4 linked regions of the Homo sapiens genome follow. The protein of the gene in region 2 interacts with the protein of the main gene of each other region in a biochemical or structural test. Each region holds a gene or a part of one and is shown on either strand. Other genes may lie near its edges. The genes, in order: BIRC2, RIPK2, YWHAG and BIRC3.

Evidence for each region.
Region 1: the proteins of RIPK2 (region 2) and BIRC2 form a complex in vitro, tested with the Homo sapiens proteins (4 studies listed by BioGRID, with this or other methods).
Region 3: the proteins of RIPK2 (region 2) and YWHAG form a complex in vitro, tested with the Homo sapiens proteins (one study listed by BioGRID).
Region 4: the proteins of RIPK2 (region 2) and BIRC3 form a complex in vitro, tested with the Homo sapiens proteins (2 studies listed by BioGRID, with this or other methods).

Annotation. Positions count from the first base shown.
Region 1 is NC_000011.10:102,350,052-102,357,732, reverse strand, and holds part of BIRC2 (baculoviral IAP repeat-containing protein 2), read right to left. Parts: coding exon 6,984-7,681; intron 6,890-6,983; coding exon 6,790-6,889; intron 1-6,789. UniProt on the Homo sapiens protein: Multi-functional protein which regulates not only caspases and apoptosis, but also modulates inflammatory signaling and immunity, mitogenic kinase signaling, and cell proliferation, as well as cell invasion and metastasis.
Region 2 is NC_000008.11:89,760,306-89,767,986, reverse strand, and holds part of RIPK2 (receptor-interacting serine/threonine-protein kinase 2), read right to left. Parts: intron 5,159-7,681; coding exon 5,005-5,158; intron 2,647-5,004; coding exon 2,491-2,646; intron 979-2,490; exon of another isoform or gene 878-978; intron 1-877.
Region 3 is NC_000007.14:76,355,992-76,363,920, forward strand, and holds the start of YWHAG (14-3-3 protein gamma), read right to left. Parts: upstream 3,001-7,929; 5' UTR 2,818-3,000; coding exon 2,731-2,817; intron 1-2,730. UniProt on the Homo sapiens protein: Adapter protein implicated in the regulation of a large spectrum of both general and specialized signaling pathways. Binds to a large number of partners, usually by recognition of a phosphoserine or phosphothreonine motif.
Region 4 is NC_000011.10:102,320,107-102,327,787, reverse strand, and holds part of BIRC3 (baculoviral IAP repeat-containing protein 3), read right to left. Parts: intron 5,952-7,681; 5' UTR 3,279-5,951; coding exon 2,426-3,278; intron 2,323-2,425; coding exon 2,223-2,322; intron 1-2,222. UniProt on the Homo sapiens protein: Multi-functional protein which regulates not only caspases and apoptosis, but also modulates inflammatory signaling and immunity, mitogenic kinase signaling and cell proliferation, as well as cell invasion and metastasis.

The sequences.
Region 1 (7,681 bases), on a different chromosome or scaffold from region 2:
GAGCTGGATTTTGAAAAGATAAGTAAAATCAACAAAGCTTTAGTTTGACTAGTAAAAAGGAAGACGAAAATAAATAAAATCAAAACCAAGAGATGTTACCATTGATAACACAGAAACGCAAATGACCATAAGAGACTACCATGAACAATTATTCACCAAAAAACTGTATAACCTAGAAGAAATGGATGCATTCCTAGAAACTTGTAATTTATCAAGACTAAAATAAAGAAGAAATAGAAGATCTGAAAAGACTTATAACTAGTAAGGAGATTGAATCAGTAGTCATAACTCTTCTGACAAAGAAAAAGCCCAGGAACAGATGACCTCATAGCACAGTTCTATCAAGAAGAAGAAAGAAGAAGAAAGGAAGAGGAGGAGAAGAAGGAAGAGGAGGAGGAGGAGGAAAGAAGGAGGAAGAAGAAAGAAAAGGGAGGAGGAGGAAGAAGGAAGAAGAGGGAGGGAAGAGGGAGTAAGGAGGGAGGAGGGGGGAATACTTCCAAACTCATTTTATGAAGCCAAGCATTACTCTGATACCAAAGCCAGACCAGGACAACACAAGAAAAGAAAATTATATGCCAATAGCCCTGATGAGCACAGATGCAAAAATCCTCAACAAATACTAGCAAACCGAATTCAGCAGCCTACTAGAAGAATCATATATCAAGTGAGATTTATCCCTGAGATGCAAGGATGGTATGACATATGCAAATCAATAAATGTGATACCACACATTGACAAAATGAAGGATAAAAATCATATAACCAGCCAGGTGCAGTGGCTCACGCCTGTAATCCCAGCAGTTTGGGAGGCCAAGATGGGTGGATCACCTGAGGTCAGGAGTTTGAGACCAGCCTGGTGAAACCCCATCTCTACTAAAAATACAAAAATTAGCTGGGTGTGGTGGCATGCACCTGTGGTCCCACCTACTCGGGAGGCTGAGGCAGGAGAATCACTTGAACCCAGGAGGCAGAGGTTGCAGTGAACTGAGATTGCATCACTGCACTCCAGCCTGGGTGACAGAGCAACACTCCATCTCAAAAAAAAAAAAAAAATTAATAATAATAATAATAATATAAACATCTCAACAGACACAGAAAAAGCATTTGACAAAATTCAACACCCTTTCAGGATAAAAATTCTCACCAATTTAGCTATAGAAGGAATATACCTCAACATAAGGACCATAAATGGCAAGTGCACAGTTAACATCATACTCGATAATGAAAACCTGAAAGCTGGCCGGGTGCAGTGGCTCACGCCTCTAATCCCAGCAATTTGGGAGGCTGAGGCAGGTGGATCACGAGGTCAGGAGTTGGAGACCAGCCTGGCCAACATGGTGAAACGCCATCTCTACTAAGAAATTACAAAAATGAGCTGGGTGCAGTGGCACGCACCTGTAATCCCAGCTACTCGGGAGGCTGGGGCAGGAGAATCACTTGAACCCAGGAGGTGGAGGTTGCAGTGAGCTCAGATTGCGCCACTGCATTCTAGCCTGGGCAACAGAGCAAAATTCCATCTCAAAAAAAAAAAAAAAAAAGCTTTCAGCTTTTCCACTAACATGAGGAACGAGACAAGGGTGCTTACTCTTGCCACGTCTATTCAATATAATACTGGAAGGGTTAGCCAGAGCAATTAAGCAAGAAAAAGAAAAAGGCATCCAAATCAGACTGGAAGAAGTCAAACTCTCTGTTTGCAGATGACATAATCTTATATATATAGAAAACCCTAAAGATGCCACCAAAAACAGTTAAAACTAATAAACCATCCAGAAGTTGTAGGATACAAAACCAACTTACAAAAGTCAGTACTAACAATGAACTATCTGAAAGAGAACTTAAGAAAGTAATCCCATGTACAACAGCACCAAAACAATAAAATACTTAGGAATAAATTTAACCAAGGAGGTAAAAGAGAAACACAATGAAAAACATATGACACTGATAAAGGAAACTGAAAATGACAGAAATAAATTTTTAAACAATCTCGTGTTCTTAAATTATAAGAATATTGTTAAAATGTTCATACTACCCATAACATTCTACAGATTCAATATAATCCCTACCAAAATTCCAATGACTTTTTTATCACAGAAATAGAAAAACCAATCATAAAATTTGTACGGAACTTAAGGCCCAGAATAGCCTAAGCAATCTTGAGAAAAAACAAACAAAAAAAACAACTGGAGGCATCATACTTCCTAATTTCAAGCTATATTACAAAGCTACAGTAATCAAAACAATATGATACTAGCATAAAAACAAAGACATACACCAACAGAACAGAGAGCCCAGAAATAAAGCCACATATACAATCAATTAATCTTTGACAAGGGCACAAAGAACACACAATGTTGAAATGATAAGTCTCTTTAACAAACGGTGTTGGGAAAACTGGATATCCAACACCGTTTTTATGTAAAACAATAAAACCAGACCTCTATCTTATACCACCTACAAAAATTAACTAGAAATGGATTAAAGACTAAACATAAATCCAGAAACCATAAAATTCCTTAAAGAAAACGTAGGCTAAAAAGCTCCTTGGCACTGGTCTTGGCAATAATGTTTTGGGTATGACACCAAAAGCACAGGCAACCAAAACAAAAATAAACTGCGACTACAACAAGCTAAAAAGCTTCTGCTCAGCAAAGGAAACAATCGACAAAATAAAAAGGCAACCTACAGAATGGGAGAAAATATTTGCAAATTATACATTTGATAAGGAGTTAATATCTAAAATATTTAAGGAACTTATACAACTCAATAGCAAAAAAAAAAAAAAAAAAAAACCCAAATAATTCAGGTTAGAAAACGGGCAAAGGACCTGAACAGAAATTTTCCCAAAGATATACAAATGGCCAACAGGTACATGAAAAGGTGTTCAATGTCACTGATCATCAGGGAAATGCAAATTAAAACCAAAATGAAATATCACCTCCCACCTGTAATGATGCCTTATTATCATCGGAGACAAGAAATAACAAAAGTTGGCAAAGATGTGAAGAAAAGGGAACCCTTGACCATTGTTGGTAATTTACTACTGTCATTATGGAAAACAGTATAGAGGTTGCTCAAAAAACTAAAAATAGAATTAGCATATGATCTAGCAATCCCACTTCTGTGTACATATCTGAAGGAAATGAAATCAGTATCTCAGAGATATCTCTACTCCCATGTTCAAGCAGCTATATGGAAACAACTTAAGTGTCTACTAAGGGATGAATGGGGGATGAGCCTGGCTGGGCGTGGTGGTTCACGCCTATAATCCCATCCACTCCGGGTGGATCACTTGAGATCAGGAGTCTGAGACCAGCCTGGCCAACATGGTGAAACCCCGTCTCTACAAAAACAGAGTAATTAGCCGGACATGATGGCAGGTGCCTATAATGTCAGCTACTCAAGAGGCTGAGGCAGGAGAATCGCTTGAAGCCAGGAGGTGGAGATTGCAGTGAGCCTAGATGGTGCCACTGCACTCCAACCTGGACAACAGAGTGAGACTCCATCTCAAAATAAATAAAATAAAATAAAATCCTACCATCTGCAACATGAATGAACCTGGAAGGCATTATGCCAAGTGAAATATGCCAGAGAAAGACAAATACAACTGGCCCTTGAACAACACAGGTTTGAACTGCACATGTCCATTTACACCCAGATTTTTCTCAACCAAATGCAGATCACATTTGCAGATGTGAAACCCACATATTTGGAGGGCTGAATTTTGGATGCACAGGTTCTGCAGAGTCAACTTCTGGACTTCAGTATGTGCGAATTTTGGTATACATGGGGGTCCTAGAACCAGTCCTCCGAGCATACCAAGGGACAACTATACTGTATGGTAACCAAACTCACAGAAACAGAGAGTAGAATGCTGGTTGCCAGGGATAAGGGGGTAGGTGAAATGGGAAGATGTTGGTTAAAGAACACAAACTTTCTGAGGATCTAATGTACAGCACATGGTGACTATAGCTAATAATACTGGACCTTATACCTGAAATTTGCGAAAGAGCATCTTTTAAGAGTTCTCACCAAAAAAAAAAAAAAAAAAAAAAAAGAAAGTTACTACATAAGGTGATGGATTTACTGAGATTAAAGATTATTCCCAGTTGAAATGTGGGCTGGGCTCAGTGGCTCATGCCTGTAAGCCCAGCACTTTGGGAGGCCAAGGCAGGCAGATCACTTGAGGTCAGAAGTTTGAGACTAGACTGGCCAACATAGCGAAACTGCGTCTCTACTAAAAATACAAAAACTACTGAGTGTGGTGGCGTGTGCCTATAATTCCAGCTACTCGGGGGGCTGAGGCTTGAACCCAGGAGGTGGAGGTTGCAGTGAACTGCCATCTTGCCACTGCACTCCAGCAGTGATAGGTGATGGAATGAGACACTGTCTCAAAAAAATAAAAAAAAGGAAAAAAGAAATGTGTTGTTTTCAGAGAAGCATTTACAAAACACGCCCCTACATCTTCTCCCTTAATCATTTAAAACAAAACACAAGTTACAAAAATAAAGATTTTGATTTTGTTTTATAAGGTACAAAATGTAGCAGTTCCAACACTGGAATTTGGAAGCTGTTTTTGTCTTTGATACCACAACATGGATTAAATTTCAAATTAATGTATATAATCCCATAGAGCCCAACATAATTAAGTCATTTAAAAGTCTGATAAAACATGCTTTTTAATTTTAAACATAATTAATAATTTAGTCATTTTTCAGTGTAAAAAAGTCAAAATTTATCTTGATATATTATTAATATTAATAACTTTAAAATACAACTTTTAACAATGTACTGATCCATAATAAAGTATTTGTTACTTCAAGTTTCTTTTTCATCATATATCATACAAAATGACGAAAACTTTTTAAATTTCCTGAAGGGGTTCAAGAGATTCTTCATTATTGTGAAAGACACTCACAGGTAAAAACATAATCTGTGATGTATGATTCCACTTATATATGATGCCTAGAGTAGTCAAATTCATAGAGACAGAAATAGAATGGTGCGGCAGGGGGCAGTGGCTCATGCCTGTAATCCCAGCACTTTCGGAGGCAAAGGTGAGCAGATCACTTGAGCTCAGGAGTTCAAGACCAGCCTGGCCAACATGGTGAAACCCTGTCTCTACTAAAAACCCTGTCTCTACTAAAAATACAAAAAAATTAACCAGGCATGGTGGCAGGCACCTATAATCCCAGCTACTCAGGAGGCTGAGGCAGGAGAATCGCTTGAACCTGGGAGGTGGAGGTTGCAGTGAGCCAAGATCGTGTCACTGCACTCCAGCCTGGATGACAGAGTGAGACTCCACCTCAAAAAAACAAACAAGGGCTGGACGCGGTGGCTCACGCCTGTAATCCCAGCACTTTGGGAGGCTGAGGTGGGTGGATCACGAGGTCAGGAGATCGAGACCATCCTGTCTAACATGGTGAAATCCCATCTCTACTAAAAAGTACAAAAAATTAGCCGGGCGTGGCAGCGGGCGCCTGTAGTCCCAGCTACTCGGGAGGCTGAGGCAGGAGAATGGCGTGAACCCGGGAGGTGGAGCTTACAGTGAGCCGAGATCGCGCCACTGCTCTCCAGCCTGGGTGACAGAGTGAGACTCCGTCTCAAAAAAAACAAAACAAAAAAAAAAAAAAAGAGAAAGACAATGGTGGTTGCCAGGATGTTGGGGAATGGGATAATGGTGAATTAGTACTTGATGGGTAGACAGTTTCAGTTTGGGAAGATGCAAAGGTTCTGGAGATGGATAGCGGTATAATCGCAGAACGGTTAAGAATGTACTTAATGACACACAACTATACACTTAAAAAATGGTTAAGATGGTAAATGTTATGCCTATTTTATCACTATTTTAAAAAATTATCTAGGCCAACCCCTCCTCATTTTACAAACAACGTCCAAGTTCACATAGCTACTCAATTACAAAGACAATTTAATTCTATTTCTACTAATAACACTGCCCCTAAATTATTTCTAGGCTATAATAAAAAAAGACACTGCTAGAGACAAAGTGGCTAAAAGGAGGTAAATGACAAAAAAAAATTGTACAGAAAAAATAATTTACAATTACAATTAAAATGGGCAGTCAGATATGCTTTTTTCTTTTTTTTTTTTTTTTTTTTTTTGAGACAGAGTCTTGCTCTGTTACCCAGGCTGGAGTTCAGTGGCACAATCCTGGCTCACTGCAGCCTCCGCCTCCTGAGCTCAAGCGATTCTCCTGTCTCAGCCTCCCGAGAAGCTGGGACTACGGCCACGCGCCACCACGCCCAGCTAGTTTTTGTATTTTTAGTACATACGGGGTTTCACCATGTTGGTCAGGCTGGTCTCAAACTCCTGACCTCAGGTGATCCACCTATCTCGGCCTCCCAAAGTGCTGGGATTACAGGTGTGAGCCACCACGCCCATCTAAGATATGCTCTTAATACATGGACTTTTACATTTGACTTATTCCTGCATCCATTCTATGTCCCTTCTTGTTTTCCTGTTCTTACCTTTTTCTAACGTCTTTTTAATCTATTTTATATGTCTTTGTAATCCTTAAGTACTCTTTAAAAGAAATGGGAAATAAATAAAATGTACGGTCATACTTGTAACTGACTTACAAAAGTACACAGAAGACTGCAGAATATTTTTCAACAAAATAATTAAAGTTAAAATGTGATCTTTTAGAAGGATAATTCCCCAATGGCATAAAAGAGGCTTTGTTATAATTTAAAGGTAAACAAAATCATGTAGGCATGCCTACTTCTTTTAAGCACAGAGTTTTTTGTACAAATACCTTTTTCAAAACAATTACCTTGGAAACCACTTGGCATGTTCTACCCATGGATCATCTCCAGATTCCCAACACCTCAAGCCACCATCACAACAAAAGCATTTGACATCATCATTGCGACCTTCAGGAAAAAAAAGACTAAATATTGAAAACACGTATGTTCTAATATGTAAATTAAAATAAAATGATAAAATGTATAGTTATTTGCTTCTTACCCACATAATAAAAACCAGCACTTGCAAGCTGCTCAGGCTGAACTGGAACACTAGATGGCCAGTACATAAATGTTCTCATTCGAGCTGCATGTGTCTGCATGCTCAGATTTGAAATGCTAAACCTCAGAGTTTCTAGAGAATTTTCCAAAAATGGACAGTTGGGAAAATGCCTCCGGTGTTCTGACATAGCATCATCCTTTGGTTCCCAGTTACTGAGCTTCCCACCACAGGCAAAGCAGGCTACCCTATCTCCAGGTCCTATATAATAAAAACCAGCTCTTGCCAATTCTGATGGTGACAAAAAAGTTAATGGCCACATATGGTAGGTAAGAAATCTGGCTTCTTCAGTACTCATTGCATAACTGTAGGGGTTAGTCCTCGATGAAGAGATGTCTTCAACTGCTCTAGAATTAAGAGGGTTTGGAGAAAGGCTGGAGTAAGAACCACTGAACAAGCTACTATGTTCCAAGGTGGGAGATAATGAATGTGCAAAACTGTTTCTCATTGGAGACGTATTCTTAGAGGTGGATCCCAGACTAGCTGAAACCAGATTCTGAATAAAGCTACAGCTAGGATATAGCTGTTTATGCTTTTGAATAGGACTGTCTCCTAGTTTCCAGTTATCCAGCATCAGGCCACAACAGAAGCATTTGACCTTGTCATTCACACCAGTATAATAAAAACCAGCACGAGCAAGA
Region 2 (7,681 bases):
ACGATCAACATTTAAGTGAGATTTAAACAAAATGATGCATCTACATAGCACCAAGGATTAAAATCCATGTAATAAGAAAACGAGTTGAAGGAACTAAAGGGTATTTATCAGGGAGATGGATAAAATGCACTTGTACGTGAGGGTTTGGGAGACAGCTCATAGCTATCTTCAAATATTGAAAGGGCTGTCTTGCTGAAGTAACTAAATTGGATTTATTCTGTTTATCACAAAAAGTTGAACTAGGATCAATGTGTGGAAGCAACCAGGAAGGAATTTTGGTTGATCATTTAAGAAAATGTCACAATTATTCAATTAAGGATGTTAAGACTCCCTGTTACAGGATAACTGCTTTGGGAGACAGGGATTGTTGCAGTGAAGTATCAGAGAACTAGTTGACCATTAAGGTATTTCTACTTGATGGTTCTATAATTGATGGAATAGATTAGTCTCTTTTTTTCTTAGCAATACTGAGGCAGCAGCTTGCTTCTCTCTCCTTTCCCCTACCACTTTATTCTAAGGAGAGGAGTGTCTTCAATAAAAATTTTTCCCACTTATTTTCTCTCACATTTCTTGTTTTAATTTCCCTGTTGTTTCAACTTCTCTATTACTGATTTCTTTGAACATTTTTTATATTTATAATAATTTTCTGATTACATGTTATTAAAAGAAGTATAGCAAAATGATACATAAAAATATGGTGAGTTACATTTAGTATTAATTACTCAAAAACTACTTTTTATTTACACTCAGTTAGATATAGTATAGCTGTGAAATCACAATAGCCAGTGTCTTCAGCACTTAAGTCCTGCATCTTATTAAAAAATGAATTCAAGGTGGATCACAGATTACATATGTAACATAAAACTATAAAACTTACAGAAGATAACAAAAAAGGAAATCTTCAGTAAGTAGAACTTGGTGAAAAGTGCTTAGAGATGACAGCAAAAGCATGATCCATAGAAGAAAAAATATGGACTTCATCAAAATTAAAATTTTTGCTTTGTGAAAGTCCCTGTTAAAAGGATGAAAAGACAAACTATAACTGGGAGGAAATATTTGCAAACTACATATCTGATGAAGAACTACTACTGTAACAAATACAGAACTCTCAAAACTCAACAGTAAGAAAACCAAAGAATCCCTTTAGAAAATGAGCTTAAGACATGAGAGACATTTCACTGAAAACCACGTATGGGTGGCAAATTAGCATATAAAAAGGTGTTCGATATCATTAGCAGTTAGGAAAATGCAAATTAATACCAAGATGAGATATCACTACACATCTATTAGAACAGCTAAACAGAAAACAGTGATAATACCAAATGCTGGTGGGCATTTGGTATTATCATTTTGCTTTGTGAAAGTCCCTGTTAAAAGGATGAAAAGATAAACTATAACTGGGAGGAAATATTTGCAAACTACATATCTGATGAAGAACTACTACTGTAACATATACAGAATTCTCAAAACTCAACAGTAAGAAAACCAAAGAATCCCTTTAGAAAATGATGCGGAATAGCTGGATCTCTCACACATTGCTGGTGGAATGTAAAATGGTACAGCCACTCTGGAAAATAGTTGGATACTTTCTTTAAAAACTAAACACACCCTTACCATATGACCCAGCATTTGCATTCTTGGGCATTTATCACAGAGTAATGAAGACTTATGTTCACTCATAAACCTGTACAGCTTTGTTCACAGCAGCTTTGTAAATAATTACCCCAAAATGGAAAGAACCAAAATGTTCCTGAATGGTTAACTTTGGTACATTTATACTGTGGAATACTACTTATCAATAAAAAACAACTATTGTTACAAGCACAACTTAGACGGATCACAAGAGCATTATGTGACGTGAACAAAGCCAATCTCAAAATATCACATACTATATGATTCCACTTATATAGCATTTTCAAAATGACAAAATTAAAGAGATGGAAAGCAGATTAGTGGTTGTTAGGGGTACAGATTGTGGTAGGGAGGAAGTGGGTGAGGTAGGATGAGTGTTATCTTTGTGGTGATGTTATGAGTAGTGCTGTACCTTGATTGTTGCGGTTACTATGAACACACATTGTACTAATGTCAAATTCCTGGTCTTGAAATTATACTATAATTATGTGTGATATAACAATGTGGGAAACCAGGTGAAGGATACATGAAACCTCTTTATTACCTTTGCAACTTCCTATAAATATATAATAATTTTAAAATAAAAAGTAAAAAAAAAAGGTGATCTTGACAATTCAATTAAGAAACATAATGGCTTTGTATTTTGTACCATAATTCTATCTCTGTCTAGGAATAACTTCCTAACTGCAGTAGGAAGAAGGAGAATAGAAGATAGAAATTAGGGGCTATGGAAATTACTATTCATTAGTCTCTATCTCTAAGGAGAGACATGAAATTGGCTAGGTCGAAGAAATAACTAAAAAGTATTTTTAAAACTATAAGGACAAGGAAACATAAACTTTTTAAAAAAGTAATTACCTTAACATGAAATTCATTGTCCAATAAGATATTCTGAGTCTTCAAGTCATGATGAAGTAAAGGAGGAGTCATATTGTGCAGGTAATTTACACCAAGGGCAATTTCATGCAGGATGCGAAATCTCAATGGCCAAGCAACATCAGGATATTCAGTTTTCTTCATATATATGTGAAAAGAAAGAAAATGAAATTAGTCCAAATTTCACTATGTTTCACACTTAGAAAGTTAAATATTCCATGAGGAAATACAGTATAAACTAAGGTTAAAACATATGCTCATTTTTATAAAATAGCACCAATTTGATAGGGTTTAACATTTTTGTGTCTTACTTTCCTCACTTTATAGAGAAAATTATGATAACTTTATGGCACCAATACTTCCTTTTAGTTTATATTGGTCATGCAACTACATGGTTTTGGGTCTTTCTTCAGCTGACACAAATCTCAATTACTTTGTATCTGTATATAGCCAGAGTCATATACTTACACCCACATCCACCTCCTCATTCTATGTCTTAATCAGGTAATTTGAGTACACACAAATACACACAAAATTACAGACAGTTTTTTTCTAGTAAATACCAAGGCATTCATTCAAAATTTGTATTTTAATTTTTCTATTACTATAAAATCATACATTATAATCACTGCATCAGTTACAAATTATGATCATATTGTATTTATTGACTAAGCATTAATTTATCATACATTTAATCATATAATTAATTTATCTGCATTCCAGCTTATAAAATTAGCCTTTTGTTTTGTTTTTGTGGAAGGGACACTCATTTTTGTTTCTAAAACTGTATAGAACAGACACATTTAAAACATAACATTTTATTTTTCATAGTACTCAAATAATATCCATCTGAGTTTTCTTAAAATAAATGTTTTCTGAACATAAAAGTTAATGTGGCTTCCCAGGAGAATGAACATACTTTGGAAGATCAGGCAATTTGGGAAGATCCACGATGAATCACCAGGCACCATACCACATTTTTCTAAATGCTATGAAAAAGACTGCTTCTACTGAAAGTACAAAACTGTTCTTGAGAAGTTTTTCTGCAAATGCGTCAGCTTATAGTTCAGTGATCAATCTGGCAGGGGGAGTGGTTCAAAATATTTTAGACTGTTTATGATACATCTTGAGTTTTCTCAATGAATTTTGTGAGGTTGGGGGAGGGCACTTCAAGATAAATCCCACCCTAAATAATGCAATACAGGAAACCAAAAGAAACACAAAAAGCTGACGTGGAACATTACTTTCTCTGGCATACACAGAGGCCTGTCCCCTAGAGAAACTTAATCTTTTAATCTGTAAAAAAGGTAACTTTTTCTGAAAATTATGCAGTTTAAAGCAGTTACCAGGCCTCTCTGCAGCATAATATAATATGGGGGCTTGTGATCATGGAGACAAGGGAGAGAAGTGCTCACTGTATATTTTATGATTTTTTTTCCAGGAGTTAGCAATCCCCCTTGAGGAGGCTGTAGAATTTCCAGCGAGCTGCAAATTTGGGTGCCAGAGTATCTGCTGGGGTGTGGGAAGAAAATGTTAGATTTCTACTTATACTCATTTCTCAACAAAAATAAAAGAGAAATTGTGATTTATTAATATTTGTATCTTGGCTCTGTGGTAGTTATACAAATCTTACAGACTGACACCAGTTACTTATTCCATCCTTGTTTCAAATGGTCACAAGTCATGAATAGAATGTGATGTATTCTGAAACTGAGAGGAAGTTACTCTATGACTGACTGACAGTGGCACCCACTTTCCCTTGGCCACTTACAGGGCATTGTGTTACACTATCATTTATGAGTATCTATTGATTGGATTTTGTAGATTAATACAGTTTTAATTAAGCCAACCCTCAAAAAATGGACCAAGTAGTTTAAAAAGATCTACTGAAACTACAGACTCATGATAATATTAATAATGAATACATGTATTTTGAGAATGAGGACCCCTGAATTTGTTTACTCAAGGGATTCATAATCAAAGAGAGAGTGACTGGTACCTTGGGAAAAAGGGTAAATGGCTGATACCACTGTCTATTATTAGAAAAGCTAATGTATCTGGTATTCAGAGATAATTTATTAATATTTGGCCTGCTAATTCAGAACTTTATGAACTGGTATTAATAACATTAAATTTGAATTTGAAATTGCTATTAATATAAAATAAAATATCACTTAACAGTGGATTTTACAGTATGCAGAGTTTATCTCTTCCATTTCTACCCATGTAATATGCATGTAAATACTATAATTTGGTATAAATGTTAGGAATGGTAACCCAGGCAAAATAATCTAGAGTACAGGGCCTGAATCCACAGTGTTTTAATCAACACAAAAATGTCACAAAAGGTAAAATTTTATCCCTGTGATAGTTTTTCATTATTCTTTGATTCATCTATATACCCCTAAATAATCTGACCAAATATAAAATCAAAGTAAAATATAGTTTGAATAGTAAAAATGGCAATTATGGCCACTAAAACTGTGTAATACTTACCCTATGTAGGAGTTCATTTAATGATCCATTTGGCATGTATTCAGTAACTATTCCCAAAAATTCAGGCTCATTGCAAATTCCCAAAATTGGAAGAATGTAACTAAATCTAGCTTTGTGTAAAATTTCAGCTTCTCTTAAGACATCCTTTCTTTCACTAAGAAAAAAAAATGCATAATTATTCAAGTAATAAAAAAATATACAATTATCATGCCTATAAGACTAAGCCTGGATTTTTTTTCATTAATTAGCTATGTGACCTCATGTAAATTATGCAACTTCTCTGCACCTTAGTTTCATCATATTTAAAATAGAAATAATACCTACCCTATATATTCCACAGGTCTGTTTAGAGACCAAACTAACTTCTATAAGCCATTGACAGGTAAAAGTGCTAAACACAGGTTTATTATTATTGTACTTATCCCAGGAATGGGAAAGAACATAGTATTAAATTTATAAAGTCTATCTATGTTAGAACAATTGGTGCTTGAACTAATTACATGATTAAGTTTACATTGTATTCAAATGAGCATGTTTTATTAGAATATTATATTAAATTTTATGGTTGCATACCATATAAACATTTTCCAAATATCCTGAATATTAAAACCTTTAAATGTTATAGATTCAATAGCTGCATAAAAGTCAGTAATATTTATAAATTATATACCAGAACTCAGGAAAAGATCACTGAGAACAGGTAAATGCTCAATAATATTAATAGACTGCTGGGGTAACTGGCTCCCAGGTTCATTTGTTTATTCATATGTAAAACAAATATATATTTAACTATTTTTTTTTCTATTTTTCTTTGTCACCCTGGCTAGAGTGCAGTGGTGTGATCACAGCTCACTATAGCCTCAAACTCCTGGATTCAAGCCATCCTCCCACCTTAGCCTCCCCAGCAGCCAGCTAGCTCCACAGGCATGCAACCGTGCCTATTTTTTTTTTGTAGAGACAAGGTCTCACTATGTTATTCAGGGTGGCCTCAAACTCCTGGGCTCAATTGTATCAGACGTCCAATAGGTAGGTATCAAATGATTTCAAGGAAATTAAAGGGAAGGCTAAAGTTGGGAAATTGTGAATTGTTTAATGCACTCCTTTTATGTAATATAAAAGGAGTGAAGGTGAATAAGACAGGTTAGGGACATATCTCAGTCTTAAAGCCTGGTTAGGGTGGTGAAACTTCACTTAGCAGTCACTAAGTGATTGACGGTTTGTTTGCTTTTTTTAACATACAGAATACACACTGGAAACTTTTTTTTTTTTTAACAGACCAGATCTTGCTATGTCGCCCAGACTGGCCCTCCCTACTCTGCCTCTTGAGTAGCTGGGACTACAGGGGTGTGCCAATGTACCTGGTGTGACTGAAAGTTTTTGAGTTGGGGAATGACAGTAGAATACAATTTTAAGATGATCAATTTGGCAACAAGATGTAGGATTAGTAGAAAGTGGTAGAGTTTGAAAGTCAGGTGTTAGGAGATTTTAATACCAGTTAATACATGAACCTAAAACTACAAAGGTAGCAGTGGAAATGGAAAGAAAAACACTAAGTGAATAGAATGCCCGCGTTGTAGTGACTGACTGTAGGGGGTTAAAAAAAAAATGAAAAGGAATTGGAGATGTCATTATTTTTTTACCCTGAGTGACTGGATGTTGGCTGCAGCAATGACAGAAATAGAAATGTTTCCAGGAGAAGCCTATTAGGTAAGTAATGATGATAAGTTAGTTCTTACACCTCCCAAGCTCTGAATGAATGGCTGTTGAAATATGAATAGCAACAGACATTCTAGACCAGACTAAGAGGACTACTTTTAAAAACAAACAAAAAAACAAAGCAAAAGAATCTTCGTCATTTATTTTTTGAATAGGTCATATATTTATATGTCTTAAAATTCAAGAGTAACAAGAAGGCATAAAGTGAAAAGCTTCTCTCATTCTCTGTCCTTCAATCACTTAATACTCCAACTGCTAGGAAACCAGTATCAGTTTGTGAGACCCATTTTAATTAAATGTTTATTCCCTAGATGGAAATAGTTCCATATCTGCCCCAAGAGATTTAGGCCAACAATAGAGGATGACCCTGAAGATTCCTGGATACTAAGAACAATAGAGAGTGCATGCTGCAGAAGTCTCAGTGACACTTCACACACTCTTTCCTCCTCCCATTAAGAGGCATTCTTCTTTCCACTGTGACCCTATTACATGTCAGTCACTTTATATGCACTAGCATCTTAAGATCACCCTCTAAACATAGTTTCATTAGCTCCACTTTATAAATGAGGGCACTAAGGCTCAGAAAAATTAATACTTTTCTAATGGTCACACTAATAAGTGGCAGGGTTGGCGTCAGATTTGAATTGCAATCATGGGACATTAAAGCCTGCATTCTTTCTACCCTATTGCTTGATCAAAGAATATAGTAGGAAAGTTCTTGAAGGTAGATTTTTGGCAAGATTGAGTGAGTGGGAAATTTTTTTTAAAGCCAAAAGATTTTAAAAATTGATTTTTACATTTTGAAAATAAAGGTGTAAAGTACAGCTTCCATAGTCACATCACCAAAATTAACTCAAAAATTTAATCAGAAAAGTTATGTCATCTACAGGGTATTTGAACAACCAATTGGACTCATTACTCATAAGGGGTGGGAAGATTGTTGGGGAAGGTCCACTCATCG
Region 3 (7,929 bases), on a different chromosome or scaffold from region 2:
ACTGCACAATACAGTACTTCTGTCCTGGTTACCCACAAAGAACTATCATTCTGCACAGATCCCAATAGTGTTAGCACTAGGATAATTTCATTAAACTCAAATAAATTTTAATCCCTTTATCAACAGGATGATTTCGGCCTTAAAAGAGAGCTCACTTGAGTGGTAAGATTGGTTTCTTTCTCTGCAGTTTCCAAATTCTCCACGATGACTTTTATAAACAGGAAGAAAATTTCTTAGGTAGTTGCCATTTTGGAACACCTACTACATTTCTTATTGAATCCGCACAACTTTTTCAAGTATTGTCCCATTTTACAGATGAGGAAAATGAGGGACAGAGCCTATTTCCTTAAAGTCACAGGAAACAGATTTGAAAAAAGGTTTTTATTTTACAAACTGTTCTTTCCTCTATACTGTGAAGGAGCAGAAGCACAAATCTAGTAAAAAACAAACTTCCCAAATCTCAACTTAAAAGGTTTTGGAACGGGTTTTCATTCCCTACTAGTAACTGAAAATGACTCAGTAGGAAGTCATCATTTTTTTAAGGTTTTTATTAAAACCTGCCAAATTAATTATCTGCAATAAACACAAGTATACATCCCATCTGTGCACTAGTGTCATAAACTATATTCTTGTTTAAAATTTCTTTTATTCCATAAATTATCGTTTAAAATTTCTACTTTTATTCCATCATTGCCCAGTATTTTAAATAAATGAGATGAATGTTTAAAAATATAAAAAAGCATCTTATAAACTTTTGTGAGAAAGCTAGCAATAGGGTGAACAAGGCCTAGCTAGAGGTCACAGATTTGCATGTCTAAGGGTAAATGATATCCTTATTTTTTGGACTAATTCTCATCTAGTGGAATATGAAGTGCTCGATTCCACCTGGCTTATCGGCTAATTTCTGCATTACCTTGGATAAATGCCATTTGCACACTCCCTACCAGCCCTTAGGTGCATTGCAGCCTCTGTGTCATTGTGTGTGACATCACTTGGTTGCTATGGATATAGGTGCGAGGTCACTCGCTTTCCTGTGGAACTAGAAATATGGAAAAGAAATATGGAAAAATTATAAGAGTCTAAATAACACGAACTGAAGATATTTCCAATACTGATACCTATTAGAAGTGCAACTTACATCATTTAAGCATTAAAACCTTGTAAGACAGCAACTGTGGCCACAGCAGTATTCCGAATTTCAGAATCAGTTCTCTTCAATAAGACAAAAACCTTTCTTTGTTAACATAGCTGCTTTAAATATAAAGGTATCAGCATTGTCCTCTTTTGAGAACCAGTAAATTTATTCAAGAATTGATCTGTAATATCAATAATGCTTCATTTAAAAGATGTAACACGCAAGGTACACTCCAGCATCCACTTCACAATGGAGATGAATTTGAAAATCTTTGTTACATAAGGCAGGAAATTAAATATTAAGATAGTGGGGGCCCGAAATCATTAGATTAATTTTCTACCTTTCATTTCATAATGCTCAATACTTCCCCCTCCTCTAATATCAAACTGGTTGACAGCCCATTAGATAAATGTGGTGTTACTGACAAAATGGTGCAATACAGGGATGAATCTGCAACCCAGACAAAATGCGACAACTGGCGATCGGTATTCTCTTTTCATCAGCATGAAGATGTACTCGCTTAAACAAAAAAAAGCCTCAGATGCATCTAACAACCAAAAATTTTTAAAAAGACTTTTTCCCCTTTAAAATAACTCCTCCCAGCCTCCACCCAGTCTAGGCTCTCTGCAATATGACAAATGCAGAATCTTCTGGAATGACTTGATACTGCCTCTCACCACGGCTTTGTTTGCACTATCAGATCAGACAGAATATTTTTTCCCCCAACTTATAGGAATTTCAACAGACGCGTGCCTGTATTCAAAAAAGAAACGGCATATGTCACACGAATCGAACCAGTCAGCTACATTCACCACCTTTTAATTTTACAGGCAATACCTACCCTTTTCAATACAAAAACATTAGGGAATAAAATGGAGATGACATGTTGAGAATGATCAATGAAAACGCTAGCGAGACAAACGTTCTCCCTTCCTAAAAGCCGGAGGACTTGCTTTGGGCGAATGGAGAAAGAAGAGCCTTTTGTTAAGAAAAACGTGAGCAAGGTGGTTTCGATTTTGCACCACGGAGCTCAGGTTTTCAAGAGACCCTATACAATGTTTCTGGGAAGATTCTCAGGGATGTGTCGGGACAGACAGTGGGGAAGATTCTGGGGGGGCTGGGGAGGTGGAAAACCGGGAGACCTGCTGAGTGAATGGGAAAGGCGCCGCCCAGACACCAGGGAGAGAAAGAGGAACCGCATCCATGCGGTCCCCCGCCCCCACGCCCAGGCTAGGAGGAGGGGGGAAGTGGGGCACAAAGGATGCGCACGCCTCCCCGCTCGGGTCCCCTGCACCCCTAGAGCCGCGGGGGCCGGAGACCCCGCTCCCAAGTCCAGCCCCGCGGGACCTCGCCCCGGCCCGCGCCCGCGCCGGGCCTGAATGGCAGCGCCGCGGGGCCACGGGGACTCCGAAAAGAGGCCGCGTCACAGCCCGGGTTCCCGTCGCCTCTCGGGACCCTCCCCAGCCCCCCTCAGTGAGCGAGACGGGGCGGTCAACCCGCCATCGCGACAGGGCGACGAAGCCCCGGGCCTTCCACGCCAAGGACCGCGTCTTCGGAGGGGCAGGGAGCGGCGGGGGAGGGGAGGAGACACTCACGTTCTTCATGGCCGCGGCCATGTCGTCGTAGCGCTCCGCCTGCTCGGCCAGCCGGGCTTTCTGCACCAGTTGCTCGCGGTCCACCATCTTCGCGGGGCTGGGTCTGGCCGGAGAAGGAGGAGGACACTGGGGCGGCCTGAAGGGCTTGGAGGGCGCGACTGGAGCCCAAGTGCCGGAGAGGACCGACCCACAGAGCGAGCAGCTGAGGCGGCGGCTGCGCGGAGGAGGCGGCTGGAGCTGCGACCGCGGGACCGGGCGCGAGGCGGCTGCGGCTGCTGTGCGTGCCACTGACGGACAACCCCCTGCGGCCCCGCCCACGCCGCATGACGAAGGCAGGCCCCGCCCACCCGTCCGCAAGCCCCGCCCATGCCCCGCCCGAGCCCGGCCGCGGCTAGAACTCCCCGCTCCCCAGCTGGGCTCACTGCGCGTCTTCCGGGCACCCCGTCCTTTCCCACTGCGCCCCCACTCTCCCCTTTTTTCACTTCACTCCCCAGTTCCCTCACCCCAGCTTCTCCAGTCGCCCCCTTACGCCTCCCCCTTGAGCCTCCCGCCCCGCCAGCCCTCGGACGCATGGGCCCCTGGGAGTTGTAGTGTAACCTGCAGTGCACTGAGGCGCTGAGGAGACCAAGGACAAAGGGGCGGTCAAGACTACAACTCCCAGCGGACATAGCGCGCAGGCGCAGGAGGACGGGGGGGGGTGCTTCGAATCCCGAGGCCGCTGGGGACCCCTGGCGGGGATCAGGGCTGCATCAGTCCCTGCGAGTGCTGATTCACCGCCCCGCCCCATATTCTCCGGGAAATTACGAGAGGAGGGGGCAGGGGCCTCAGTCCTAGACCCTGTTTCCGAGATCACGTAGCAGGTCGTGGTGGGGGAAGGACAGGAGGCGCGTCCATTGTAGATCCAGACTCTCAGTGTGGTGCCTGCCCGCGGGATGGCCGAATTAAGGGGCCAGACCCTGGGGACTGTCACCTCCACCCCCTACGAGCTTCCATTAAACCCCCCACCCCACCTTGAGGCTCTTGGGCCTGAATAGGTGAAAACATGGACGAACGACAAATACCGGCTGGCCACAGTGGTTGATTTCCAGAAAGGATGCAGCTGTCTGCTGGCTGACCCTGGAGAACCCCTTCTTCCTCTCCAGGGTGGAGTGCTAAAGATTGAGTTCAGCTACCAGGAGCCTACTCCACATCTAACTGGGCTGCGTCTAGGGCTTGGTTGTCCAGCCCTTCTCTCCCCTCCTAAGACATACATACCTACTGAGGTCACGCTGATATATTCTCGTTCATATTATTCCACATAGCTTGCAGATAGCATGGGTTTTTTTGCTTTGTTTTGCTTTTTTGTAGAGACGGGGGTCTAGCTTTGTTGCCCATGCTGGTCTCGAACTCCTGGGCTCAAGCGATCCTCACGCCTCGGCCTCCCAAGGTGCTGGGATTACAGATGTGAGCCACCATGCCTGCAGGCCTGATAGTTTTGACTGCACATTTTATTTACTTTATGTATTCAACAATTATCTATGAGAAGCTACTGTGTTCCAAGCCCTATTCTAAGCCACGAGGTACAGTAGTGAACAAAACAGACAAAAATCCCTGCCCAAGAAAATAGGTGAGATATGTACAGTATGCTAGAAGTCAGTAAGGAGTGAGTTTTGAGGTTGCAGTGAGCTGAGATTGCGCCACTGCACTCCAGTCTGGCGACAGAGCAAGACTCCGTTTCAAAAACAAATAATAAAATAAAAAGTTTTTTAAAGGCTGGGCACGGTGACTCACACCTGTAATCCCAGCACTTTGGGAGACCGAGGCGGGCGGATGACAAGGTCAGGAGATCGAGACCATCCTGGCCAACATGGTGAAACCCTGTCTCTACAAAAAATACAAAAGAACTAGCTGGGCGTGGTGGTGCCCACCTGTTATCCCAGCTACTCGGGAGGCTGAGGCAGGAGAATCACTTGAACCCGGGAGTCGGAGGTTGCAGTGAGCTGAGATCCCTCTACTGCACTCCAGCATGGGTGACAGAGCGAGACTCCGTCTCGAAAAAAAAAAAGAAGTGAGCTTTGGCCTGGCACGGTGACTCACACCTGTAATCCCAACACTTTGGGAGGCCGAAGCGGGTGGATCATCTGAGGTCAGGAGTTCGAGACCAGCCTGGCTAACGTAGCAAAACCCCATCTCAACTAAAAATACAAAAATTAGCTGGGTGTGGTGGTGGGCACCTGTAATCCCAGCTACTTGGGAGGCTGAGGCAGGAGAATTGCTTGAACCTGGGAGGTGGAGGTTGCAGTGAGCCGAGATCGTTTCATTGCACTTCAGCCTGGGCAACAAGAGCGAAACTCCATATCAAAAAACAAAACAAAAAAAAAGTGAGCTTTGCAGACTCTGCTGCTGCCAGGAGTACTCTACTACTGGCCATGGTCAATCCCACCGTGTTCTTTGACATTACTATTGAGCCCTTGGGCTGCGTCTCCTTCAAGGTTAGGGGCATGGAAACCAAGAAGCCAAGTGACCTCTCCGGAGCTTGCAGTGAGCCGAGATTGTGCCAGTGCACTCCAGCCTGGGAGACAGAAAAAGACTCCGTCTCAAAAAAAAAAAAAAAAAAAGAAGTGACCTCTCATCTAAACTGTAAAGCCATGTTAACATATCGGAGCTGTTAGCAGACAGTGTTGTAAAGACAGCAGAAAACTTTCGTTCTCTGAGCACTGGAGAGAAAGGATTTGGTTATAAGGGTTCCTACTCTCTCTTTTTTTTTCTTTTCTTTTTCTTTTTTTTTTTTTGAGACAGAGTCTCGCTCTGTAGCCCAGGCTGGAGTGCAGTGGTGCAGTCTTGGCTCACTGCAACCTCTGCCTCCCGGGTTCAAGCGATTCTCCTGCCTCAGCCTTCTAAGTAGCTGGGATTACAGGCGCGCACCACCACGCCCAGCTAATTTTTGTATTTTTAGTAGAGACGGTGTTTCACCATGTTAGGCTGGTCTCGAACTCCTGACCTCATGATCCATCCGCCTCAGCCTCCCAAAGTGCTGGGATTACAGGTGTGAGCCATTACGCCCGGCAAGGGTTCCTACTTTCACAGAATTACTCCAGGGATTATGTGTCAGGGTGGTAACTTTACACACCATAATGGCACTGGTGGCAAGTCCATCTATGGGGAGAAATTCGATGAAGAGAACCTCATCCTGAAGCATACAGATCCTGGCATCTTGCCCATGGCAGATGTTGGACCCAACACAAATGCTTCCCAGTTTTTCATCTGCACTGCCAAGACTAAGTGGTTAGATGGCCAGCATGGAGGTCTTTGGCAAGGTGAAAGCGAGCATGAATATTGTGGAGGCCATGGAGCGCTACGAGTCCAGGAATGGCAAGACCAGCAAGAAGATCACCATTGCTATGGCCGGGCGCGGTGGCTCACGCCTGTAACCTTAGCACTTTAGGAGGCCGAGGTGGGCAGATCACTTGAGGTCAGGAGTTCGAGACCAGCCTGGCCAACATGGTGAAACCCCTGTCTCTACTAAAAATACAAAAATTAGCTGGGCGTGGTGGTAGGTGCCTGTAGTCCCAGCTACTCCAGAGGCTGACGCAGGAGAATCGCTGGAACCTGGGAGGCAGAGGTTGCAGTGAGCTGAGATTGCACCATTGCACTCCAGCTTGGGCAAAAAGAGTGAAACTCCCTCTAAAAAATAAATAAATAAATAAAATAAAATCACCATTGCTGACTGTGGACAACTCTAGTAAATTTGACTTGTGTTTTATCTTAACCACCAGACCATTCCTTCAGTAGCTCAGGAGAGCACCTATCCATCCACCCCATTTGCTCCCAGTATCCTATCATCTTTGTGTTCTTGCTACAGTTCCCTTTGAGTCCCATGATTTTCTTATTCCCTTCCATGTCTGGGTGGATTGCAGAGTTAAGTTTGTGACTATGAAATAAAAACTAAATAACAACAAAAAAATCAATAAGAAGTGAAAAATAAAATAGGAAACATGAAGTGTGGATGAGAATGTGGAATGAAAGAGTTTCCATGGGGGAATATTGCAGGCTCTATGCCAGATGCTGGAGGACCCCTGTCCTCAAGGAATTCAGAGTGTGTTAAGCACTGTAAATATTTTGTTTAAAAAATAACTTCTTTCAGGCTGCATAGGAAGAGATTCTGAAAAGCTTCTCCAGGGAGTTTGGTAACATTTCCAACCCAGCCTTTAAATGAGTGTAGGATTTGAGAGCAGGCAAAGGCACAGGTAGCAAGACTCAAAGGCAAGTTCCTCCCTGACTTATTTATTTATGTACTTATTTTTTAGAGGTGGGGGTCTCACTATGTTGCCCAGGCTGGGGTACAGTGGCACGATCATAGCTCACTGCAGCCTCTAATTCCTGGGCTCAAGTGATCCTCCCACCTCAGCCTCCTGAGTAGTGGGGACTACAGGCATGCACCACCACACCCATCTCCCCTGAAATATTTATTGATAGGCAAAGAATCTGATGTATCTGGTGTCTGGGTGATGGGTAAGGGGCTGGGGATAGAGTCAGGGGCCAGAACATGAGGGGCACTGAATGGCAGCCCCAGGAGTTAAATTTCTATTCTGAAATTAATCGGAAGCCTGTGAAGAGATTTTAACAATGGCAGAAAATGATCAGATTTGGGTTTTGTCTTTTTCATCCTCACCTTGGCTTCTCAGTGCTCAGCAGAGTACCTGGCACATGATAAGTACATAGAGAGAGAATAGGAAATAAATAAATGAATATGGCCAGGTGCACTGGCTTACGCCGGTAATACCAGCAGTTTGGGAGGCCGAGGTGGGCTCATCACCTGAGGTCAGGAGTTTGAGACCAGCCTGGCCAACATGGTGAAATGCTGTCTCTACTAAAAATACAAAAATTAGCCAAGCGTGGTGGCGTGTGCCTGTAGTTTCAGCTACTCGGGAGGCTGAGGCAGGAGAATCGCTTGAACCCAGGAGGTGGAGGTTGCAGTGAGCCAAGATTGTGCCATTGCACTCCAGCCTGGGCGACAGAGTGAGACTGTGTCTCAAAAAAGAAAAAAAAAAGAAAGAAAAACAAGAAATGAATGTAGCTGTAGTCCTAGCTACTCAGGAGGCCAAGGCAGGAGGATTACTTGAGGCCAAGAGTTCGAGACTAGCCTGGGCAACATAGCAAGACCTCATTTCTACAAAAAAAAAAAATTTAAAAATTAGCTGGGCATGGTCATCACAGCTA
Region 4 (7,681 bases), on a different chromosome or scaffold from region 2:
GGATTCAAATTTTTTGTGTGAATTTTTAATTGTTTTGTAAGATGCTTCTCATGACAGTCAACATTTTTCATACAGGTTGAATGTTTTACAAAATTAATATTTTTATATTTGCCAAGATACATTATGCTTCTGCTAATTTTTTTTTTTTTAGACAGAGTCTCGCTCTGTCACCCAGGCTGGAGGGCAGTGGGATGATCTCAGTTCACTGTAACCTCTGCCTCCCAGGTTCAAGTGATTCTGGTGCCTCAGCCTCCCGAGTAGCTGAGCTTGCAGGTGCCTGCCACCATGGCCGGCTAATTTTTGCATTTTTAGTGGAGATGGGGCTTTACCATGTTGCCATACTGGTCTCGAACTCCTGACCTCAAGTGATCCTCCTGCCTCAGCCTCCCAAAGTGCTGCGATTACAGGCATGAGCCACTGCACCCGACCACTTCAGCTAATTTTGAAAAGTTCTAAAGGTTTATCTTAATTTGGGCAGGACTAATCCAGCCATTTGTAGACTGGCTATTTCAAGTGAGTATAAACATACATATAATCAATTTACTCTTAATATATTGTGAAGTATAAATATTTCAAATGAGTATAAATGTACATATAATCAATTTACTATTCATTTAGCATATAGGGAATGGTCAGAGATATTGCAGTGAAAGGCAGGTTGATATAAGCAAGAGGAAGGTGATTACTAGTTATCTACCAAGGCTCAAGTGGACAAGGGTCAGGAGCCCCTCAGTCTACTGAGGTCAAGTAAGACCATCTCTCCTCAGAGCTCTTAGCTACTCTCTTCAACTCTTCTAAGATTCTTAAAACACACTGATGTTGGCCGGGCAAGCACCTCAAAGTCCTGAGGTCAGGAGTTTGAGACCAGCCTGGACAACATGGTGAAACCCTGTCTCTACAAAAATACAAAAATTAGCTGGGCATGCTAGCGTGCACCTGTAATCCCAGCTACTAGCGAGGCTCGAGGCATGAGAATTGCCTGAACCCAAGAGGCGGAGGTTGCAGTGAGCTGACATCACACCATCGCACTCCAATCTGGGCAACAGAGCCAGGCTCCATCTCAAAAGAAAAGAGGAAAAAAAGTAATCAAAATAAGTTAAGATGCCACATTTATTAATCGATATTAACCCATTTCCCATTTAGAAAAAAAACAGTGCAGCTTGTTGCCAGTGCAGTATTCTCAGGGCAAATGGGAAACGGGTTGAATAATAGCAAAAGTTTTGACCATGAAAAAATGTAATTGTAGGCCACATGATTTAGATGAAAAAGGAGAGTGTAAAAAACTTTTTGAAGCTGATATTTTAGTTAGTACATTAAGTTTCTTACCCACGTGATAAAAACCCACACTTGCAAGCTAATCAGGATTAACTAGAACACTAGGTGGCCAGTTAAACAATCAAAAGGGTAACACATCACATTAAAATGCTGCGTGGCGACTAAAACAGATGAGATGAGTCTATACTTACCCTGACCACCCAATTTAATATTGTAACCTGCCTGGCATTTCTAAACTCCTCTTTGTTCTTTTTATTGATTGTACTTATTTTCCAACATGCTATAGAACTTATTCAAGTTTTTATTAGTTGTCTGTTCTCTCGTGCTATAATAAAAACTTAGGAGACCAGGGGTCTTTGTTTTGTTCAACTGATTTTATGCACCCAGAACAATGCCTGCCAATAGGTGATCAATTATTATTGAATACCGAATGAATGGAAATATATCCAAGACAAATGTTGACTGAAAAAACTTCAAAACTAGATATAATATTTAACTTATGTAAAATGGTGTACATTTATTTCTATATGTATATGTATTTATTTCTATATGTATATGTATCATATACATTTATTTCTATATGTCTGGAGGGATGTTCACTAAAGTGGTAACCATGCTCATCCTTAGGCGGTAAGATTTCTGGACATTTTAATTTTCCTTCTCTGTGCTTTTCTACAATGTGTGACTTTGTTTTTATAATGAGCATGTATTATTTAAATATATATATATTTCTTTAAAAATTAAACAAAAATCCCCAAATCTATTTCTTCGTTGTCTTAAGTCCATCGAAACTTTTTAAGTAAGTATTTTACTAAGTAATCCATCCTAAACTTATTCACAAATATATATTTGGAACAGAGTAAAGTAACAACTGATTTCAGGTGAACACATATAAGCAATCTCATGATAATCACAAGAATTTGCAAAGAGAATTTCAAAACAATTACCTTGGAAACCACTTGGCATGTTGAACCCATGGATCATCTCCAGATTCCCAACACCTGAGTCCACCATCACAGCAAAAGCATTTGACATCATCACTGTTACCTAAAATTAATTTTAGACCAAAACTTATGAATACACATAATTTGCCCACTAAAATGTATAAAATGAAATATATTTTTTTTAATTAGCAGATTCAGTTTCTTACCCACATAATAAAAACCCGCACTTGCAAGCTGCTCAGGATTAACTAGAACACTAGAGGGCCAGTTAAAGAATGTTTTAAAGCGGGCTGCATGTGTCTGCATGCTCAGATTAGAAACTGTGTATCTTGAAGTGTCTTGAAGCTGATTTTCTATAAATGGGCATTTGGGAAAATGTCTCAGGTGTTCTGACATAGCATTATCCTTCGGTTCCCAATTGCTCAATTTTCCACCACAGGCAAAGCAAGCCACTCTGTCTCCAGGTCCTATGTAGTAAAAGCCTGCTTTTGCCAGATCTGTTGGCGACAGAAAAGTCAATGGCCATGTCTGAAAAGTAAGTAATCTGGCATTTTCGTTATTCATTGCACAGTGGTAGGAACTTCTCATCAAGGCAGAAAAATCTTGATTTGCTCTGGAGTTTACAGGATTTGATGGAGAGTTTGAATAAGAGCCACGGAAATATCCACTGTTTTCTGTACCCGGAAGTAATGAGTGTGTGGAATTTGTTACTGAAGAAGGAAAAGTAGGCTGAGAGGTAGCTTCCAAGTTGTTAACGGAATTTAGACTCTGAACGAATCTGCAGCTAGGATACAACTTTTTATGCTTTTCAGTAGGACTGTCTCCTCTTTTCCAGTTATCCAGCATCAGGCCACAACAGAAGCATTTGACCTTGTCATTCACACCAGTGTAATAGAAACCAGCACGAGCAAGACTCCTTTCTGAGACAGGAACCCCAGCAGGAAAAGTGGAATACGTAGACATTCGGTACAGTTCACATGACAAGTCGTATTTCAGTTCAAACGTGTTGGCGCTTTTCATCAAATTTGATAAGAATATGCTGTTTTCTACTATGTTCATAATGAAATGAATGGGGAAGAAAAGGGACTAGCCTTTCTCTAGGGAGGTAGTTTTGTGCATGGCTTTGCTTTTATCAGTTTTAATACTAGGCTGAAAAGCCAAAATGAAAAATTTTTTATTATTTTTATTTCTATGCATTTAGAGTTTCAACATGGAGATTCTAAATCCTATACTGATACATTTTAAGGAAGAAATACACAATTGCACCTTTGTATAATCTTTATACATACAATGTAAACATGATGCTACAGAGTAAGCTGTGTTGAAAATTAAAACCCTTCACAGAAGAGTGATGTGTATTAAGCCATCAGGATGCCATTTAATGGCAGGCATCTCCACAGGTAGGTCAACTTCTCCAGGCTACTAGAATGTTTCAGTGGCATTCAATCAACCCAAAGATGTAATGTGTGACTCATGAAGCTTCTTTTCATGGTGGAAAGCTCTGCTGTCAAGTGTTTCACAGCAAAAATATTCAGAATATGTTTATTTTGCTTTTTGGAAATTGTGAAATTTAGTGGCCAGGAAAAAAAAGCACAAGACCTAACTCAAAGGAGGAAAATAATACATTACCATATTTCACTGATTCTAAGATGGCTATTTTAAAACTTCTGTTATCAAGAAGTATTTCATAATTAATGACATCATATTTTAATTAGAAGCACTTTTATTTCTTAGAGGTACGTAAAATAATGGTAAGATTTACAACTGAAGACATTTTGAATTCAGTGAAATATGATATATCCCCAATTTTTCTCCAATTAGTCATTTTTTTCTTTCTACAATCCTTCTAATAAGGAGAACAAAACAATCTAAAATTTCTCTCCAAATAAAGAGATTTACTAGTAACAGGACTGGCTAACACATCTTAAAACCTGGTTTCAATATTAATTAAATAATAGTTATTTCCCATAGATCATCAGGAATATGATTGCTTAAGTATAATGATACTATTAGATCTTACACAATTAAATATTCTATTTAAAATAAATAATCAGAGATTAATGTGTTTGTTCATTTGGTCTTTTGGACTCAGTTTCATGCTGTTGAAGCAACTCAATGTTAAGTTTTTTTATTCTAATAGTATACTTGGCTAGAACATGGAAATGTCCTCTGTAATTATGGTAGACAACAGGTGCTGCAAAAAGAGACTCTGCCCAAACTACCAATAACAAAACTGAACTTCATTGCTATATTCAGGTTACTTTTGGAAAAACAGAATCATGATATATATTTCATTCCCTTTGTTAAAAATTTTCTTAAGATAATTTAGATATGGCTGTAAAATAAGACCTTTCAAAGATTTTAAATTTTTTGTCCCCCTCAAAGAACTAACATTGTAGAGTTATTCAACTTATCACCTCCTGAAAACATTTTTGAACTTTTGTTTTTCTAAATGTTTCTGAAGCCAACATCAAATCTACTCTGATAGTGGATTTATTTTTTAAAACAGTCAAAAGTTACCAGATGCCATCTGTAGGCTAAGATGGATAATCAAATTGCATCAATTTAGTTTTGGTCAGAAATTATTTCATGGATAGCATACCTTGAACCAGAATTTATCATGACAAAAAAAATAATAAATTTACCATTTCAACAGCAGAGACCTTGTCAAAATTCAGAATTTCTCAATTATGATTTACTAGCCATTAGTAAAGAGGTTCTGAGTCGATAATACTAGCAATGACCAATAAGCAAGTCACTGTGGCTTTTTTTTTTTTTTTTTTTTTTTTTTACCAGTGGTTTGCAAGCATGGTTTCCTGGATCTCACAGACGTTGGGCTTTTCAACTGCAGACTTCAATGCTTTGTTTCCAGGTGGCAGGAGAAACATCACATCTCATTACCAACAATTATTTCCCTCAAAGGTAAGTAATTGTATCTAACTTCAATATTCCTTTCCCTGGCCAAAAATTTTACACATTGTTATAAAAATCTTCTTTGTATTCATCACTGTCTTTATATTAATTTTCTAAGTTTCTTCATTTCCTAAAATGTAACCTTCAACCATCATTCTCATCCTCATCATTCTCAGCGGTAACAGCCCATTTAAACAAACTTTTGGACGTTTAAAATATCAGTGGCCTTGTAAATAACTGGATAATTTCTTGACCAATCATCACATTTATCTTTTTACTTCCTCTAAATTTGTTGCACATATCAAAAAGCTTTGTTCTTGATTTTTCTTTGTCACTGTAGAAGTATTTTAATGTGTCAAAACTTTCATCTGCATGTTTCTTTAATTTGCAGTGGATTGATTATTAGCTCTTTGTTCCAAATAACTGTCACTCATTTTAAAATCTTTCCCAAACACAGGTACTATTTCTATTCTACATAATGGGAGAATGTGCCAGTAGGAGACTGCCTGGCCAACTCTGAAAAAAATGCTTTAACAATATGCCCCAGCTAGAATCACTTTTCCTTTATTTCCACAAATCAAATTCAAAATCAAACTCATTATGGTATACCTTATATAACTCGATCATGTTTATAAAATTAGCATTCTTTGGATAGTAAAACACCAGTTAATACTTAATTTGTTTACCCATGCACAAAACTACCTCCCGAGATTAGACTAAGTCCCTTTAAGGATTTTAGGTCTCCATTTTGAGATGTTTTGATTTATAGAAGAAACTGAAAAAAAAATCTAGAAGAAGTCGTTTTCCTCCTTTGTAAACCTGTTCAAAAACAAACAAAAAGACAGTTTTAAAACTCAAACGACTCATGGATGGAACACAATGACTTTTTAAAAAATCATTTTCTCCAAAATAGAGTACTAGTAATTACTGATCGTTTACCATGTATCAGGTGCTTTACTAGGCACTGTAGAGGCCAAAAAGAGATAAAAAACAGAGGCCTCTGCCTGGTGCAGTGGCTCACGCCTGTAATCCCAGCATTTTGGGAGGCCAAGACAAGTGGATCACTTGAGGTCAGGAGTTCAAAACCAGCCTGGCCAAAATGGTGAAACCCCATCTCTACTAAAAATACAAAAATTAGCTGGGTGTGGTGGTACGCGCCTGTAATCCCAGCTACTCCGGAGGCTGAGGCAGGAGAATCATGTGAGCCTGGGAGGTGGAGGTTGCAGTGGGCCGAAATAGTGCCACTACACTCCAGCCTGGGTGACACAGCAAGACTCTGTCTCAAAAATAAAATAAAATAAAATAAAACCCAGAGGTTTCAAACTGGAAGACATATTATGTTTGGCTTACATAGAATTGCATTATAGTTCTTTACTAAGTTTTTATTTTTATTTTGAAATTTATTTATACTTAGAGAAAGCTTACAAAAATAATAGTTTCTGCATACTCTGCACTTAGCTTCCCCAAAGCTAACATCTTACCTAATTACAGTGCAATTAAAGAAACCAGAAAATTCACATTGTACCATGCTGTAGATTAATCTGCATGCCTCATTTGAATTTAATCCAGTTTCCAAATCCATTTTTTTCTTGGACCACAGTATTTTTAAATCTTACCATTAATTGCCAACATGTTTAAATGTAAGAGACTTCCCATCACATTCTAGATTCCAAGCTTCTCTTGAAACATCAAAAGATCTAGCAACACTGGGCCTATAGTCCTGCAGGGCAGCAATCAGCTAAAGCTGAGCAGCAGCTGTGCCCTTTAGAGAGGGAACATGTTCTCTTTGATTCCCTGACACTGGGACTGACTGTTCTGGTAGTCTCCACTAACAGTAACAGTCTAGCAATAACAGACTGTTGCTATTTGTCATTGAACTGGCACTATTGTTTTTCTTACAGCAGAATTATGAGAAAGTGAAATCAATGTAACACATGTGTCCATCAAAAGTAACAAAAATGAAAAGTAGAGAAAAAGGACATATGTTTTGAGAAAAATAGGATAATTTTTGTCTTTGTGGAAAGGAAGGATATTCCTTCATATCAAATACGTAAACAGAGTATGCTTTCATTTAAAAGAGACACCCCACAAGGCCTCATGCCATGGCTCACTCCTGTAATCCCAGCACTTTGGGAGGCTGAGGTAGATGGATTGCTTGAGCCCAGGTGTTTGAGACCAGCCTCAAACTGGGTGACTTGGCAAAACACCATCTCTACAAAGAAACTCAAAAATTAGCCAGACATGGTGGCACCTGCCTGTGGTCCCAGCTACTTGAGAGGCTGAGGCAGGAGGTTCACTTGAGCCCATGAGGCAGAGCTTGCAGTGTGAGACTGCATAACTGCACTCCAAACTGGGTGACAGAGCAAGACCCTGTCTCAAAAAAAGAGAGAGAGAGAGAAAGAGAGACACTGAGAGTTTTTCTCATTTATATCACCTCCATTTGAGTTTGCAAACCCCTTACACAAATCTTATCCTAAAGAAGCTTTAGGTCAGGCGTGGTGGCTCACGCCTGTAATCCCAGCACTTTGGGAGGCCAAGGAAAGCAGATA